2 linked regions of the Homo sapiens genome follow. The protein of the gene in region 1 interacts with the protein of each later gene in a pairwise test. Each region holds a gene or a part of one and is shown on either strand. Other genes may lie near its edges.

Region 1 (3,821 bases):
TACATTAAAGGTGTATTTACAAAGAACACTGGTCTTTGGTTATAGTAGCTACTCTGGCTCTGTTTAGCTGTATGGTTTAGCTGTAGCCTCCTGTTCAAAAGAATGTTCCCTTCCTGTTTTTTGAGCAGTGCCATATCTTTTTGAGCAGTACCATCCATAGGATGATGGTGAGCAGCAAATCATTTCTGCTAGAATTCCTGCTTTTCTCTGTGTTAGAGGGTTGGTACTTTGAGACTATAGTAATAGTATTAGTAATAATTAAAATTTAAAAATCAACAGTAATACACACTAACAGTTATTGAGTCCTTATTCTGTGCCAGCCCTTTTCTGAGTGCTTTAAATATATGAACTTATATAATCCTCAAAGAACTATTGCTATTATTTCCATTACACTGTTGAGGAGCTTGAGAAACAGAAAGGATATTAACTTGCTGGCTACTAAGTACCAGAGTTGGGATTTGAAACTAGGCAGTGTGACTCCAGGAAGTCTGACTTCTCATCAGAAGTCATAGACATGGTGAAGATGCTTTCTGGGTAAGAGCAGTGTCTGAGTTGGGAGGGCCCTAAGAAGTCATCTAGTACAATGCCCTCCTTTAACAGATCAGAAAACTAAGGCCCTGAGAAGTTATCCAAATGCTAAAGGTTCCCACCTCTCTAACAGACAGGGCTATGATGAGAATGGCATTCTTTCCATTTTACTGCACTTTGATTTATTTTATTTATTTATTTTTGAGATGGAGTCTCACTCTTGTTTCTCGGGCTGGAGTGTGGTGGCACGATCTTGGCTCACTGCAACCTCCACCTCCTGGGTTCAAGCAATTGTCCTGCCTCAGCCTCCTGAGTAGCTTGGATTACAGGCACCCACCACCACAGCCGGCTAATTTTTGTACTTTTAATAGAGATGGGGTTTTGCCATGTTGGCCAGGCTGGTCTCGAACTCCGGACCTCAGGTGATCCGCCCACCTTGGCCTCCCAAAGTGCTGGGATTACAGGCGTGAACCACCACGCCTGGCCCTGGACTTTGATTTCTAATTGTGTGAAGGTCTAAGTAGGAACATGGGGTGAAAAGACAGTAATGGAAAGAATATCTCTTTTTGCTCTTAATAAATATTTTATTTAATCCCTACCTGCCCTTTAGGTGGATATAATTATATACTGTTTTTTTTTTTTTTGTTTTTTGTCTTTTTTTTTTGAGGAGGAGAGCTAGTAAGTGGTAGAACCCTTCTTTAGGCCCAGGATTCTCTAATCCCAAAGTCCATGACCTTTCACTTTACACCTCTGGGTTTGTTTATATGATGCCAGTCCTACCACTGAGTCTTCCTGAGGGGAAAGAAACTGTACAGACCAAACCTTCTCTTAGAAATTTTATTGCTGAAAGAGATCTTAGAGATTATTTTTCTAATCTTCCCTTTTTATAAATGCTGAAGGAGGAGATGTGTTGTCAAAGGATAATTAGGGAAACAAGTAAGTCAAGTGAGAGACATCTTTCACCACCTGCTGCTGCATTTCTAGTGCAGGTGAAGGAGGGGCAGTGCTCTGCCTGTGGCTGCTGCCGACAGCTCTGGCTGCTGCCCTCTCGCCATCAGGCATGCTGGAGGCAGAGCTGTTATAAATAGGCTCAGTCTCACTGTCCATGATTATCTCTTTGGCATCTTGCTTTTTTTCTGATGGAGAGTATAATCTATGGAGGGAAACTGGGTACTTTGCTGTATTTGGTACCATGAATATATGGACAAATGTTATGAAACCATATCAGTAAATAGCCTCTTTAAAAAAACCCCACAAAACTCCACTAAGTTGCTGTCTAAAAACATGTATATTTTCTCTCTAAAGGGAAAATAAAAAACCTTAACATAAATGGTATGAGACCAATATAACTGATTTTTATGTTTTAATTCTGTTTAAATTCTCAAATTTAATTCTCTTAAATTAATAAAATAAATTTAATTCTCTGAGAAGATCCCCATTGTAAATTCCATACCTTACTATTATCTGTATTCTTTCCTAGCTTAAATACAAGTTTCTGTCTACCTAGGATGGAGTGATCACCTGACACAACTTGGGCCAAGAGCAGGAGGGGAAGCAAGGACTCTCCTATGGCATCTTGACTTTCCCAAACTTTGATATTTTCATGGATGATGTTAAAATGGGTCACACATAAGGATTAATTAAAATAACATTTGTGAAAGGACTTTGAAGTGTTAAACAAATGTAAGGTATCCTTATTATCACATTCATTGTGACCATAATCATGATCATTACCGCTTGTTGCCTCTTGGCCCAAGTTGTCTGTGTGACATATTTCATGGACTGTAGTGTTTTACAGGGTTGAAATGGCATGATGCATCGTAGAAAGCTGAGAGAGAAAGACTGCACACATGAGCATGTGTTCATCACATAGTCAAGGAACTCCAAACAGGATGGCTGAAGTGAAAGGTTGTTAGGGGGTTCAGGGGGTGAGATAGACTGTTAGAGAAGTATATAAAGACAGGCCATAGAGGATTTTGTGCTATACTACATAGACGTTTGGGCTTGATTCTCTATAGATGGCGAGGAACTATTAGAGGGAGGTGGCAGTATCAGATGGTTTACATTTTAGATTATACAGACCCTCTGGTAGAGGATGTTTGGGTCAGTAAGGTGCTGTTGGGGACTTTAAACAAAATGTAGGGAGACCAGTTAGGTGACTAGGAGAGTCTTTGCTGAATTAACAAAGGAAAAATGGATGTCTTCCCCAGTGCTTCTCACACCCCACATCTTCCACACCATCCTTCCCCCTGGGCTCAGCACATTTCATATTTGGGTGTAACTTATCTTCCAGGACTTTGCCTAGGCATTTTCTCAGATGCAAATCTTTTACCTGGAGGCTGGTTCATTTTTCCTGCCAGTTGCTAGAGGATGATGCTCTTTCTGCCTTAGTATTCACTGATCTCATAGCAATGTCATTGTATTAATTACTCTAGGAATGGTGCTTTGCATGGATATTGAAGGCTTTTGAGCAATGTATCCTTCTGGGTTAGTGGCGAATATAGATATCATTGGTGGCTGTATTTCCCCTCAGCTTGGGAAAAGGAAATGCTAGTGTTTTCCTGGGCACTGTTAGAAATTACAGCCCATTTTGGTCAGGTGGGAATATTGACTCACATGGATGGATAGATGTCCTTTTTGTTCTCAGATGAATATTGAAGCTCTTCGGGAGAATCTTTATTTTCAGTCCAAAGAGAACCTTTCTGTGACATTGGAAGTCATCTTGGAGCGTATGGAGGACTTTACTGATTCTGCCTACACCAGCCATGAGCACAGAGAACGCATCTTGGAACTGTCAACTCAGGCGAGAATGGAACTGCAGCAGTTAATTTCTGTGTGGATTCAAGCTGTAAGAACTTTTTTTAAAATCAAAGTAAATCTTATATAATGGCTTTCCCATAAAGTTTTGCAAGATATGGAAGTTACATAATCACCAGGAGTATGAATTTGTTCCAGAATGGGACAGGATATCTCATCCCTTCTTTCCCTCCTAGTTGGCCAAAATATCCTTCCCATCTAGCACTTACAATACTTGACATTTATTTCCAGGCCTGTTGACTCTCATTCTAGCCAGTCTCAATTATATGCCTCTGTCACTATCACTAGTTCACACTGTTGTCCCTACTCTTCCACCAAACTCACCTCTGGAAAATTCCTCCCCAAAATACTTCTTCAGAGTGAAGAACAGAGGAGTAGACCCCCTCCTAGAGGTTCTTGGGACCTGAGCCTGACTGCTGGAGCCATTCACATGTACACAATTCTTACCTCTGAGGACAGCTGATTTACAGAGACAA
Region 2 (3,821 bases), on another chromosome or scaffold:
ATATTGGCACAGCTGGAGCCTCTGACGTGCACGTCACAAGTAAGCCTGTGGATAAAATCAGTGTTCCAAACTGTGCCCCTGCTGCCAGTTCCCTGGATGGTAACAAACCTGCTGAGTCTTCACTTGCATTTAGTAATGAAGAAACCTCCACTGAAAAAACAGCAGAAACGGAAACTTCACGAAGTCGTGAGGAGAGTGCTGATGCTCCAGTAGATCAGAATTCTGTGGTGATTCCAGCTGCTGCAAAAGACAAGATTTCAGATGGATTAGAACCTTATACTCTCTTAGCAGCAGGCATAGGTGAGGCAATGTCACCCTCAGATTTAGCCCTTCTTGGGCTGGAAGAAGATGTAATGCCACACCAGAACTCAGAAACAAATTCATCTCATGCTCAAAGCCAAAAGGGCAAATCCTCACCCATTTGTTCTACAACTGGAGACGATAAACTTTGTGCAGACTCTGCATGTCAACAGAACACAGTGACTTCTAGTGGCGATTTGGTTGCAAAACTGTGTGATAACATAGTTAGCGAGTCCGAAAGCACCACAGCAAGGCAACCCAGCTCACAAGATCCACCCGATGCCTCCCACTGTGAAGACCCACAGGCTCATACAGTCACCTCTGACCCTGTAAGGGATACCCAGGAACGTGCGGATTTTTGTCCTTTCAAAGTGGTGGATAACAAAGGCCAACGAAAAGATGTGAAACTAGATAAACCTTTAACAAATATGCTTGAGGTGGTTTCACATCCACATCCAGTTGTCCCTAAAATGGAGAAAGAACTGGTGCCAGACCAGGCAGTAATATCAGACAGTACTTTCTCTCTGGCAAACAGTCCAGGCAGTGAATCAGTAACCAAGGATGACGCACTTTCTTTTGTCCCCTCCCAGAAAGAAAAGGGAACAGCAACTCCTGAACTACATACAGCTACAGATTATAGAGATGGCCCAGATGGAAATTCGAATGAGCCTGATACGCGGCCACTAGAAGACAGGGCAGTAGGCCTGTCCACATCCTCCACTGCTGCAGAGCTTCAGCACGGGATGGGGAATACCAGTCTCACAGGACTTGGTGGAGAGCATGAGGGTCCCGCCCCTCCAGCAATCCCAGAAGCTCTGAATATCAAGGGGAACACTGACTCTTCCCTGCAAAGTGTGGGTAAGGCCACTTTGGCTTTAGATTCAGTTTTGACTGAAGAAGGAAAACTTCTGGTGGTTTCAGAAAGCTCTGCAGCTCAGGAACAAGATAAGGATAAAGCGGTGACCTGTTCCTCTATTAAGGAAAATGCTCTCTCTTCAGGAACTTTGCAGGAAGAGCAGAGAACACCACCTCCTGGACAAGATACTCAACAATTTCATGAAAAATCAATCTCAGCTGACTGTGCCAAGGACAAAGCACTTCAGCTAAGTAATTCACCGGGTGCATCCTCTGCCTTTCTTAAGGCAGAAACTGAACATAACAAGGAAGTGGCCCCACAAGTCTCACTGCTGACTCAAGGTGGGGCTGCCCAGAGCCTGGTGCCACCAGGAGCAAGTCTGGCCACAGAGTCAAGGCAGGAAGCCTTGGGGGCAGAGCACAACAGCTCCGCTCTGTTGCCATGTCTGTTGCCAGATGGGTCTGATGGGTCCGATGCTCTTAACTGCAGTCAGCCTTCTCCTCTGGATGTTGGAGTGAAGAACACTCAATCCCAGGGAAAAACTAGTGCCTGTGAGGTGAGTGGAGATGTGACGGTGGATGTTACAGGGGTTAATGCTCTACAAGGTATGGCTGAGCCCAGAAGAGAGAATATATCACACAACACCCAAGACATCCTGATTCCAAACGTCTTGTTGAGCCAAGAGAAGAATGCCGTTCTAGGTTTGCCAGTGGCTCTACAGGACAAAGCTGTGACTGACCCACAGGGAGTTGGAACCCCAGAGATGATACCTCTTGATTGGGAGAAAGGGAAGCTGGAGGGAGCAGACCACAGCTGTACCATGGGTGACGCTGAGGAAGCCCAAATAGACGATGAAGCACATCCTGTCCTACTGCAGCCTGTTGCCAAGGAGCTCCCCACAGACATGGAGCTCTCAGCCCATGATGATGGGGCCCCAGCTGGTGTGAGGGAAGTCATGCGAGCCCCGCCTTCAGGCAGGGAAAGGAGCACTCCCTCTCTACCTTGCATGGTCTCTGCCCAGGACGCACCTCTGCCTAAGGGGGCAGACTTGATAGAGGAGGCTGCCAGCCGTATAGTGGATGCTGTCATCGAACAAGTCAAGGCCGCTGGAGCACTGCTTACTGAGGGGGAGGCCTGTCACATGTCACTGTCCAGCCCTGAGTTGGGTCCTCTCACTAAAGGACTAGAGAGTGCTTTTACAGAAAAAGTGAGTACTTTCCCACCTGGGGAGAGCCTACCAATGGGCAGTACTCCTGAGGAAGCCACGGGGAGCCTTGCAGGATGTTTTGCTGGAAGGGAGGAGCCAGAGAAGATCATTTTACCTGTCCAGGGGCCTGAGCCAGCAGCAGGTAAGCAAAACATAATACAAAATTAACAGTCTGAGAAGCAGATTCCCTTAAGAGTCACTGTGGTGTCCTGGTAAAAATATAGGCATCTTTGTTGTTTTGAGGCCTTGCACTCATTGGGTAGGTAGCCAAGTTAATAGTCACCACCATCAGGAGGGGCACGTCATCTCAGGGTTGGACAGATTTTGCTTCCTGTATTGTAGACTTACTGCTTGGTTGCTTAAGCTTATAAACACTCCTGTCTCATTCTGGAGTGGTTGCAACTTTGCAAACCTAGAAAACAATGCCTAGATCACAGGTACTCTAAAGTGGTGAAAGAATTTAGCAGATGTTTTTATTCACATGGCTTAATCCTTTTCTCTAGTACCATAGAAAACAGTGCCAAAAAGCTGTGTTTTATCTACAAGCCTGAAACTCCCTTCCTCCCCTATCATCCTAGTCTGTATTCTGAGCAAATTTAGAGTCAGAGTGGTTTCATGAACAGCTGTAAGTATTGTTCTGAGCTGACTTCCCAACATCCAAAATGGTGGTATTAGGTCATTGGTGGTTTTTTGTTTGTTTGTTTTTGTTTTTTTTGGGCTAGGGGTGTTGTTGACGGGGAACTCCTTCCTTTTCCTGCTTGGGGAGTGGACCTCTAGTTCCATTGCCTGTTGCTTTTGGGCAGCAGTCTGAGAATTCAAGACCCTGCACAGTGCAGGGGATAGGATGCAGGATTTCCGCCCAAGCCCAGTCTGCTGAGCTGCTGTCACAGGGCAGACCTTGTGTCTGCTTTATCTTGGTGAAGCAGCTGCACTGAGCAGATTGCTCACACAGCAGCCTGTTCCATCTGTGGGTAACCATGTTCCGAGGCAGCAAAGAGAAACCGCTATTGCTCCGTGGAAATAAACTATCTGAATAAAACTTCTTAACGGGGGTTGAGGCTGAAGCTGAAACGGGAGTCGGACACGATCTTGGCTCCTGAAGTCTTTAAAGGTCAGTTTGATGCACACTTCTATACCACCACCTGTTACCAGCTGTAGACAGAAGACCTATCTCCATGCTTGCCCCTAGGCTTTTGTAGGTAAGAAGCAGCCTGTTTTGTCTTTATTGTTTATTTTTGCTGTTCTTTTCAATTTTTGAAAATCCCTTTACACATATGTATTAAGAATGTGGGGGAGGGTTATGGAGAGAAATGAATCAATGGAGCAAAAGAAGTTGCTTTGGAAGAAGCGCAATTTAAATACAGTGGTTATTTTCCCTGGTAAAGGGCTTTTAGCCGTTTATAATCTTTTTCCTCCCCAGTTGAGGGATTTAAGGAATCCGAGGTAGAATTTTTGATG

The links.
Region 2: the proteins of CTNNAL1 (region 1) and AKAP13 interact in a two-hybrid assay, tested with the Homo sapiens proteins (one study listed by BioGRID).

Annotation. Positions count from the first base shown.
Region 1 is NC_000009.12:108,978,836-108,982,656, reverse strand, and holds part of CTNNAL1 (alpha-catulin), read left to right. Parts: intron 1-3,175; coding exon 3,176-3,376; intron 3,377-3,821. UniProt on the Homo sapiens protein: May modulate the Rho pathway signaling by providing a scaffold for the Lbc Rho guanine nucleotide exchange factor (ARHGEF1).
Region 2 is NC_000015.10:85,579,603-85,583,423, forward strand, and holds part of AKAP13 (A-kinase anchor protein 13), read left to right. Parts: coding exon 1-2,505; intron 2,506-3,821. UniProt on the Homo sapiens protein: Scaffold protein that plays an important role in assembling signaling complexes downstream of several types of G protein-coupled receptors.